2 separate regions of the Homo sapiens genome follow, and region 1 is linked to region 2. Evidence: fine-mapped expression QTL. A gene starts in region 2. The other region holds a variant in brackets. All regions are shown on one strand. Distances are from middle to middle.

Region 1 (5,375 bases), 37 kb after region 2:
TTGACACTCATGTATCTGTAAACAGAATGACAAAGATTCCTGCTCTCTTGGAATTTATAATCTAATGGGGGTGGGAGTGCATGCATAGGTATTTATATTCCTCTTAAATAGCACTTAAATTTCACCATTAGATTGGCAGAAATGAAAGAGGCAGTAATCCAGTGGAGATGAAGGGATGTGGAAAGGGGTGCAGTGTTGTGCTTCAGGCAGTGGTGTGGTTTGCTCTGTGCAGGGCCATGGGCAAAATGTTGAGTCACAGTTCTCTGTGCCCCTTTACCCAGGATCTCTGCTCCCAGTAATCCCTCTTTCATAGAACTTAATAAATGTGTGCAGACCTAAGTACAGAATTATTGTAGCACATTTTGATAGTAAAAAAAGGGAAGCAGTCCAAATGTCCATAGATAGGAAAATGCTTAAATAAACTGTGGTACATCCTACTGTTGAATATTTTACAGTCACTAAAAAGAATTGGTCAGCACTATATGAATCCTTGTGAGAAAATATCTACTATGTATGTGAAAACCTGAGTTGTGGATCAATGCATGTAATCCTCTATTGGCCAGGTCAGGGAAGGCCATGGGACCCCGTAACGCATAAAGGTCTGTGAGAAGTTAGGCCTCCTAACAGTGAGCACTAAGGGGAGCATGAGAAGCAGGGAATGCTATCCATTGTAACCCTCTACCAGGGGCTCTGTTACAGTAATATATAACAAATATGTCTTCTATTTATCACTTTTTAACAGAGTTTTTTTAATTAGAAAATAATCTGGAGAGGTTTTTAAAAATACAGATCTCCAGCCAGGCGCTGTGGCTCACACCAGTAATCCTAGCACTTTGGGAGGCCGAGGCAGGTGGATTGCCCGAGCTCAGGAGTTCAAGAGCAGCCTGGGCAACACAGTGAAACCCCATCTCTACTAAAATACAAAAAATCAGCTGGGCATGGTGGCGCCTGTGTTCCCAGTTACTCAGGAGGCTGAGGCAGGAGAATCACTTGAACCTAGGAGGCGGAGGTTGCAGTGAGCCAAGATTGCGCCACTGCACTCCAGCCTGGGCGACGGAGCAAGACTCCATCTCAAAAAAATAAAAAATGAATAAAAAATAAAAATACACATCTCCTTCCCTGCCTCACTCTAGGGCATTCTGATAGAGAAGTCTAAGATCGGTCCTACAGGTTTTTTGTTTGTTTGTTAGTTTTTTAAGCTTACTAGAAGATCTCATCAATCAAGTTTGGGAAGCACTGCTCTGAACAATTGAGCAAGTCAATCCCATAGAAGACTTCACTTCATTAAAAATAAAAAGTTTATCTGCATTTTTCTCTATCTCTCTCATAATGTTCACATTTTGATTCTTGATCTGTGTTGCTCTGGAAGCAGGAATCTCTGGGTACTTGCTTATTCCAGGGGCAACTGTTTTTTCCTAGCCAGAGTTCAGTCCAGCAGTTCAGCACACCCAAACAGATATGGGCTATGAAAGGAGGTCTGGACCCATGACAACCGTGGCTTGCTTCTACTCACTAGTGCTGGGACAAAGGGCACCTGCCCTTCATCTGCTCGTTCTGGAAGATCACCTGGTTTCCATTTATTTAAATAAGTGTATGTGAGAAACTTTTAACCACTAGTCATTAGTTCTCAAATTTATCTGCACATTTGGAATCACCTGGAAAGCTTCAAAAAATACTGATGCCTGTGCCCCACTATCAGTGATTATGAACTTGGGGTGTGGCCTGGGCTTTGGAGTTTTAAAGAGCTACCCGGGTGATTCTAAAGTGAACACAAATTTGAAAAACATTTTACTAGTCCCTTTTGTTTTATTAAAAAGAATGATACCAGCCTGCTCTGCAGAATCCAGAACAATCCTACACCTCGGCCAGAGGCAGACAGCTCCTCTGCACTGAAATAGCACTTAGGTAGCCTGGCCAGGTGTTCAGCCACAAGAGTCCCAAGACCCATCGCTGTGGAGTGGACTTCTTGGACAGTTCTTAAAAGAGTAGCAATCTGTTGTTCACTAGTGGCCATGGCCTGTTTTTTTCTAAGTATCTAGAAGACCTTTTATTTGCTTTAAAATTTAAAATAGAACTAGAGTGAGTGG[T/C]ATTATTTTTTTCATTTTGGATATTCCATAAGAAATAGATGGTTGAGCAGTTGCCAGAGAGAGATTGCTGATCTAAAGAAAATGCAAGTGGGATGCCATTTTTTATTTTATAAAGAAAGAGACCATTTGGTGCTATATTCTTCCTTGGATGTATTTCAGCAAAAGAATCTCTTTAGAAGCTGTTGTTGACAGATGCTTTAGGAGAAGCTGAAATATTGGCTCATATGACTTCCTTTTAGTCAACATAAAGGAATTTATAAGCATAAATTTCAGAAATTTGCCCAGCTTCATTGTCTACAAAGCTGTTTTAATTCTGGTCACATTCACTTTAGCTTATCTACTGCCCAATATAATTTCTGAGTCTAGTGCCTGTGGAACTTCAGCCTTATACTTGGAAAAGCTTATATTTTGGCAAAATAAATCCTAAAGGTTGAATTGAGAGAAAATGATTCTTGAGTTCTCTTAACCCAATTGTTTTAAGGGGAATGACTTTTTTTTATGCTTTTCTGTTTGGATTGAGAGTCAATCTAGAGATATGGAAGGAAGTCACCCATCTTGTTCTTCCAGTTTATGTCATCAACTGTTGATTATTGGAAACTAAATAATTTCTCCAGTCTTTATCCAGACATGTGTTTATTTATTTATATAAATATTCACAGGGCACCAGCAGGTATGTTAAGAGGCTGATCATGGACAGCAGTAAAGAAGACTCACTTTCCTGGCCTTAAAGTTTTTAATCCCCTGGTGGATACAGAAACAAGCATCAAGTGATCACAGTGTGGCATGCCACACTGACTGTGTTAGAACCAATGAGGAGGGGAGCAAGGGCTCACATCTCAGACGATTCGTGGAGGAGGCTCTTGGCAATATTTTCAGGCCACAGAGATCCAAAGCCTTTATACGTATAGAACATGAAACCCAAAGAGTTTTCCTAAAGCCCTGGCTAGCGAATTGCTGATGGGACTATAACTTTGCTTTCCTATCTGTCACTTAACACTCCTTGTATGGCATCACTTCTCTCTGTGGATTATTGTCTGATAACATGCTGAAATGCCAATGCTTACTGCCCCTGCTTCCCACATTCCTTTCATATCCAGTTATGAAAGTGAATGAGAGAGCCCTGAATGTGTTACTGTTAGAGCACATATCTATGTAAATGATTTGCGTTGCTGAGGGAGCTGGAGGCCGAGGATTATAGCCTTGCAAACTGTCTCAGTGTGTTACTATTCACGTATCTGCTTCTGAACTTTGACTTCCCCTACCTTCTGTTCCTCTTGGTAGTCTCCAAAGACAGAGACACATAAACAGATAGCTTGGTATGTATCTTTGCTACAGTGCTTAGCATAATGCGTTGCATATCTCAGGTGTATATATATATATATATATACACACACATACACACACACACATACATATACAGACAAACACATGTCAATGATTTTTTATTACTTTTAGGTACAATGTTGGAGACAGTCATTGAACACCCACTGTGAGCCTCAGGACTGTTGTACACAGTAATTAAGGGTTAACAGCTTACTAATAGGGATTATAACACCATAAAAAGCATTTTTCAGGTGGCCACATGCTGAGGCATTTGATTGCCAAATTATAAACTGTAGCACCATGGGTGGTTTTGGTAGTTGTGGCAGCATTAAACAACAAAATGAGTTGTAATCAACCACAGCATCAAGATAAAAAATATTCCCCTTGTTTCATGCAGAGTTGGGAGAGTTAGGCCTCTGCTTCAGTCTTTCTAGATGCATTATTCCAGACCTACATCCATGAGAGTGCAAAGACACGTACAGAATGGAAGATACGCTATTTGCTAGTATGGGAATGGATTTGTCCATAGAATAAAAGAACGCATTGAAGTGCACTGCATGGAAACTTGCTTCCATGACTCCAAGGTGTCTATTCCCTAACCATAAAAATAATTCTTATTTCCCACTACCTGTTCGACTTCACACATCTCAGAGTCAGGCATGTTTAAGGGACTCTCCACCTTTGTCCTTGGCTGTGTTGGTGACTCTCCTGGGCTCCTGAGTGGCCAGCTGTTCTCAGCAGACCTGTCACTGTGTGTGCATCTGCTGCTTCATGCCTGTCCTGGATGAGGAGCCTTAGCCACAGCGTGCTGACAAGCTTTTCACCTGCGGTTTCTTTCTTGACTGCTCTGTTAATTGGCCATCTGGTTGGACTGCAGTGAGTCTTTCTCTGCTCCACTCTCTCTGCCCCTTTCCAGACTCCCTGCTTCCAGTCTGGCTCCGCATCTTACTAGCTTGGGATGTGGATAGGCGCTGTACCTTTTTTCTTTTCTTTCCTTTCGGATGACGGCTGTGGAGATGAAATGAGGCAACATTGGTAATGGAATAGCACAAGGTAATTGTGTCTTCAACGTACCCTGTTGGCTGGCGATCCTGTGTCACTCTCAGATAGGTCCTATTCAGGAAATATTTTAGAAGCAAAAGGTAGCAGGTCTAAATCTGTGGAAAGTTAGATACTACTACCTCTATCCTTCAGCAAGAGAGACAAAAAAGATGAAAAGCTTATAATTCTAGCCCCAGTGAGTCTTCATCTCTCCAGTGGCAGATTCTTGAGCAGTCAGCCTTTCCCATGGCATGTGGAACCCTTCCATCACAGCCTCTGAGCCCACAGGTTTCAAAGTGAAGGAAATTGCTTTCCTTTTAAAGTTTAACCTGGATAGAATGCCAGATCTCAAATCTGACATTGTGTCATGGGTACTTTCCAAAGCAGATTTAACCAGTCTCATGATATTTAGGGTTTATATCCATTTATGTTGTTAGCACCTTAAATCTGGCTCTTACCATGTGAGCTAGCATAACTTTCTAGAAACAAAAATAAACTAAATATAAAAATAACTAGCCAGGGTGAGAAAGTCGCCCCCCAGGTCAGAGCTAAGACAGGAAATCAGCTGCCCTGTCCTGTGGCCTCCTCCAGTCCTTCCCCCAGCACACCTTTTGGGCATAGACAGTGACAGACAGTGCAGACACAGCAGGCAGCCGTGGCCTATGATCTTATGCTCAATTTCAGGGCTCAGATGGTTACCCTAAAGCTGATACGAGAAAAGCCAGGAATGGTGGAGTGTCTAATGCCAGTTTATCATGTCATCTCAAATACTGTGGAAGATCGGGGGAGGCGGGAAATGGCAGTAAGAAATAATTTCCTAATGTGATGAATGAGAAGAGTGAACTTTTCTAAAGAGTTAATGTACAGAGCATGAGCAGAGGATCCTAAAACTGGAAGGGACTCTAGAGATCACCCACCTACTTC
Region 2 (5,375 bases):
ACGAACGTCTGGATTCATAAACTTAACGTAAACTGAAATACTAAAAGAAACACTACATGAGTCAAAAGTCCTTGTTTAAAACGTGGCATACAGCTTTGAAAAGCGAGTGATGTATTTCCTGAATGATGCTTTGTGTGCAACTGCTTCCAAATCAAGATTCATATTTTTAAATTACCCCCTGGAAGATGTCAAATCTCTCTCCCACCCTCTCCAGCCTAAAGAGAAAGGTGAGAATTCACAGGCAACAGGCTGGGGCGGAGGGAATGATCTCTCCCCATCCCTTTCCAGAGAACAAAACCCGATAAAGGCAGCTAGTGCCACTCTCATTGCCGACACCACACACACACAGAGGAAATTTAAACACTCACCCCACCTCTCCCTTCCCTTAAGAAGCAAACGACGCCAAGCTCTGCACCACGGTGGCCGGAACCAGCAAACGCTAACAGCCGGAGGCCGCCCGCCTCCCGGGCGCCTGCAGGCGGCGGGCACCGGGCGCCGACTCTCCCTCCTGGACCAGACCCACACCCGAGTCCACGCCAGCCCCGCAGCCCGGGCGAGCGAAGACAGCCGCGAAGGACCAAGGCTCCGGGGCGAGCTGTGGCGCCGCTCCGGCCGCCTCCCGGGGCGCGGCGCTGACCCACACCCAGCTGACGCCCGCACCTGAGGCGGCTGCCCGCAGCCAGCGAGAGGGCGCGCAGCGAGGCGGGCAGGGCAAAGTTACTCACTGGGAAAGCGCGGCTGCCCGGGCCGCGCACGGGCTCCTGGCGCCGCTGCTCGGCACCAGCTCCCGCTCTCCGCGGCCCGCTGAGGGAGCGGAGAGCCTGCCCGGCTCCGCTCCGCCAGGAATCGCCGCCGCCGCCGCCGCCGCCGCGGATTTCCTGGCAAAAAGCAAACTCCGGCCAAGACTTCACTTCTCAACCGCCCCTGCTGCCTTCCCGGGGGCAGCGCCAAGGCCGAGCGGCCCAACCCGCACCCGGGCCAATCGGAGGTAGCACAGGGCGGGAGGTGGGCGGACCAGAGGGCGGCTCCACCTATCCGAGAGCTCGGGAGGCGGGCCAGAAGGGACCCGTCACTCCCGGGTTAGAGTGAGACCACTCCGCCCTCGCCGCCCGCCTCCCCCACTCGCCCCGGGCTGTCCCCGCCGCCCGCCTGATTCCCCTGCGGAAGCCCCGCTGGCTAGGTGTCTGCGCGCACCCCCGGCCGCCGCCAAGAGTGGCACAGCTGGGGAAGGAGTGAACATCCAGAGGAATCGCGGGGCGGGGTGGGGGGAGGCCAGGAGAACAGGTGGCGCAGGGAAGCAGAAACGTAGTTGCGCTGGACAGCTGGAGTCGGGCAGGGTCGGGGCCAGCGGCGAGGGGACAAGAAGGGCCGATTCGAGAGGAAGCGCACCTGAGGGAGCACAGCGAAGGCCGGGACGCAGGGAGCTGGATGGAGAGCGAGCCTGGGCGGCGAAAGGTTGCCGAGGCGGGGGCTGGGCGCCTGGGAACAAAGGTGAGGGCGGGTTCCGCAGGTGAGGAGGTTTGAGGAGCCACTGGGGAGAAAGGGAAAAGGAAGTCTACAGCCGGAGAGGACGCGCTCTGGGGGTAGAAGGAATCCTAGGACGGAAAGGATAAGGTGGGAAACAGTTTTCTCCCAAACTCTCACTCCCCCAAAAGAGACATTTCTTTCTTGCCCTATTTTGACCCAGTTGAAAATGCAACTGCAAGCTCCCCGGTGAAACAAATACCGCCTTCAACCTTCGTATTCTGTGGTGACTCATCTCGCACGTGACCCCCCTCCCTCTTCAAGGTGTGTTGACCGACTACAGTTTAAGCCTGTCGTCCCACAAAAGGCCCGGGAGGGCCGGGGTCCCAGGAAGGGCCATCCTGGGTCAACACCGCCCCAGTTGGGAAGTCGGGCCGCTTTCGGACTTGCCACTGGGAAGGGAAGTGATTTGGGGGCGGCAGGTAAGGCCGCGCCCCTTCGCCATCACCTGGGGAAAGGTACCAGAGTTGAGCCGGGGCGCCCGCAGGCCTGTCTGGGCCTCGGGGTAAGGCGGCGCTGGCCCCGCCCCCTGCCCCTCCCGCCGCGAGTGGCCTCGCGTGGTCGCCCAGGTGAGCCGCGGGGCCGCGAGCCACCGCTCACCCCGCGTCGGGGCGGGGGCTGGGGGTGGAGCCTCATGCCCCGCCCCGCGGCTGGGCCCTGCCGCGCCGCTGCGGCTCCTCCTCCCTCCTTCCGTCCTCCGCGCCTTCCGTCGGTCGGTCCTTGCTTCCTGCTTCGCCTCCGCGCCTCGCGCTATGGGACAGAGCCCCCGATCCGCCAGCACCACCTGAGGATCCAGAAACCGCCCCAGCGATGGAAGAGGATCAGGAGCTGGAGAGGTAACGGCCGAGGAGGAGGCGGGCGGAGCGGGCCGCGCCCAAGGGGAGCGGGTGGCCGAGGGGCACGCTGCCTGGCCTGGCAGCCGGGGCCTGACTCGGGGCGCAGAGAAGAAGCATGGAGAGAGAAGTGGGGAGGAGACATGAATGTGTTTCAGTTGAGAGGCTGAGAGGTACACTAGCTATCAAGGAGGGAAGACAAGTTGGGAGACCAGAGTTAAGTATCCGAACTGCCCACCCCCGTTACAACAGCAGTGTGTAAAAATCACGCCCCGGGCCTCTGCTCCTGAGGACGGTACTCGTGCCTCTGTCCCTGTAACTACGGCTCACCTTCTTTCTATGTGCAGACTGCTCCTAAAGCCACTCTGTGCGCTGAGCTCTTTTTCTCCCTGCTGCTTGACTCCTGAACCTTCCATTCTCCTAGTTTCCTTCTCTTGCAAAATGGAAGCCGTAGTTGGGCCTGCACATTGATCATCTGTATCCTCTATTTTTATACTAGAGCAATCGGGATTTCTATGCCTTTCAACCCTCTCTTCATCCTCTAGCAGGACCAGTCCTATTCTAATCCTATCCCTTGCTTGTGACTCTACCAAAAAATATTTTTGCAAACACTTAAGTTTGTGTTTTTCTAAGAAAACTCCCCTTGTGGCCAGTGTGGATGGTCAAATGGAGCAGGGAAAAACTGGAGGCAATAAATTAAATATTTATTGATAGAGTTTGTGGAGGCAGGAAAATGAGAGGCGAATAATTCTGTGTAGCTGGAGTAGATTAATAATAATGTGTTGCAATGTGATATAGTAAATGAGAAAAAGCTAGTTACAAAACAATATTCAGTATGATCTCATTTTTATAAAAAATATGTGTGTAGAAAAATATCTGGATTGAAGACCTCAATGGCTGAAGGCGAGAGGAAGACAGCCCTGGAAATGGTCCAGGCAGCTGGAACAGATAGACACTGTGTGACATTTGTATTGCACGAGGAAGACCATACCCTAGGAAATTCTCTACGTTACATGATCATGAAGAACCCGGAAGTGGAATTTTGTGGTTACACTACGACCCATCCTTCAGAGAGCAAAATTAATTTACGCATTCAGACTCGAGGTACCCTTCCAGCTGTTGAGCCATTTCAGAGAGGCCTGAATGAGCTCATGAATGTCTGCCAACATGTGCTTGACAAGTTTGAGGCCAGCATAAAGGACTATAAGGATCAAAAAGCAAGCAGAAATGAATCCACATTCTAGTCCTTTATGCAGTATACAAGGAGAACTGTCCTGTAGGATATTCTCTTCCTGATGGTGCAGAACCCAGAATTAGAAGTTTGTGGTTACAGCATACTCTGTCCTTCAGAAAGGCGTGATTCTAGCTGTTGACCCCTTGCAGCTGTTGGAATCTCTGCAAGAACCTCTGTATTCTTCTAATAAATTCCCTCTTTTATTTAAACTAGTTTGACTGGTTTCTGTTCCATGCAACCAAATGGTCCTTGAGGATGACTTTTTTTCTAATTAAGCCAGCATTGAAAATGAGGAAACTGAGAATATCAGAGGCCTAGACAAGAACTGTGATCATGGGAATTAAAAGAAGTATATATCCATGTCTGTAGTTGGAGTGGTGGGGGTAAGGGAAGAGACAAAAACCATGACCCCAGTTAGATTGTTGTTTAAAAACAGAAGGAAAGAAGATTGGGGTGGGGACTTGGCTTCTTGCTAAACTTTTTGGCTTTTAAAGAATTGCATCATTTGCTGTGATTGGTAGACTTGGCAAGGGTGGGAATAATTTGGAAGAAGTGTGAGAATTCTGGTTTTACATGAGAGTTTTAGGGAGTAAGGCTCCATCTTTGAGGCATTTACAGGAAAGATACCAGTTTACTGCTTGAATTTTGGGATATACTTAGTCATGATCTAAGTAAGGTAAGATGTTTTGATTATATTACAGAAGGAGAAAATTGGGATGACTAGAAAACATTTTCAGTCCTTAAGTAGGTATAGCCTAGGGTAATGTAGAAGAAGCCCTATTTGAGAGAAGGTAAAGCCAAGGAGAAGGAAAATTCCATATAGGGGAAATGACTGTTTTGGAAAACACATATCCCACCCGCCAGTGCTCTGTGCTTTGGGCCCTTGTTTATCTATCCCCTCTTCCTGGGCCAGTCTTACTCCTGCCGTACTCTTAAGTCAAAGCTTATGTGTCAGGCCTCTCAGCCTAGTTTGGGTACTTCTTTGTGCTTTCATTACACCCTGTGTTTCCTGGCCTTGGCATTTACTATGCTATTGGTAGTGCTTATCTTGTTTACCCACTAAACCAACTTGGAGGTCAACATGATTCTGGTACCTGGAACACCTGACAGGTAGTGGACACTTAGTAAATACTCTATGAATTCATGTAAGTAGTTATGGCATGCAGCTTTTCAGTCACTCAAACCTGACCTCTTACACTAGCGTGCCATAGAGCCTACATTTCCTACACTCAGCCAAATTCTTTAAAGAGATATCCATATTTTTGAGCACTAGTATGTTCCAGGCCTTGGGGATAGATATATAGCTATAGTGGATGAGACAGAGTAAGTCCTGTTCTCATAAAGCATGTGTTATAAGAGCCCCTTAAAAAAAAATTGTGAGGCTCGGCATGGTGGCTCACACCTGGGAAGCCAAGGTGGGAGGATCACTTGAGCCCAGGAGTTTGAGACAAGCCTGGGCAACATGGGGAGTCCCTGTCTCTACAAAAAAATAAAAAAGGTAGCCAGGCATGGTGACACATGCCTGTAGTCCCAGCTGCTTGGGAAGCTGAGGCGAGAGGATATCTTGAACCTAGGAGGTTGAGGCTGCAATGAGCCATGATCACACCATTGCACTCCAGCCTGGGTGACAGAGGGAGACCTTGTCTCAAAAAAATATATAAAATTAAAAACTTGTAATTCTGTAAAAGCAGCAAATGTAGGGTCAAGATAGAAAACATAAGAAAGGAATCTACTTTAGGCACGGAAGTTAGGAAAGGTGTTCTAGAGATTACAGGAAGGGAGAG

The links. PIP is the estimated chance that this variant, and not a neighbour inherited with it, causes the effect.
Region 1: its variant is fine-mapped to the expression of POLR1D in whole blood (INTERVAL, PIP 0.93).

Annotation. Positions count from the first base shown.
Region 1 is chr13:27,656,453-27,661,827 of GRCh38, forward strand. It overlaps a transcript of POLR1D not described here. Among named protein-coding and RNA genes, the nearest start is that of POLR1D, 37 kb to the left of the region's middle. The variant T/C (reference allele first, on the strand shown) is at 2,088.
Region 2 is chr13:27,619,650-27,625,024 of GRCh38, forward strand. It overlaps POLR1D (RNA polymerase I and III subunit D), which reads left to right and starts at 2,243. Exons shown (of 2, transcript NM_015972.4): 1 at 2,243-2,360; 2 at 3,226-3,800. The coding sequence starts at 2,335. The coding sequence ends at 3,601. It overlaps LNX2 (ligand of numb-protein X 2), which reads right to left and starts at 880. Exons shown (of 10, transcript NM_153371.4): 1 at 726-880. RefSeq lists silencers at 430-1,319, 1,940-2,499 and an enhancer at 908-1,636.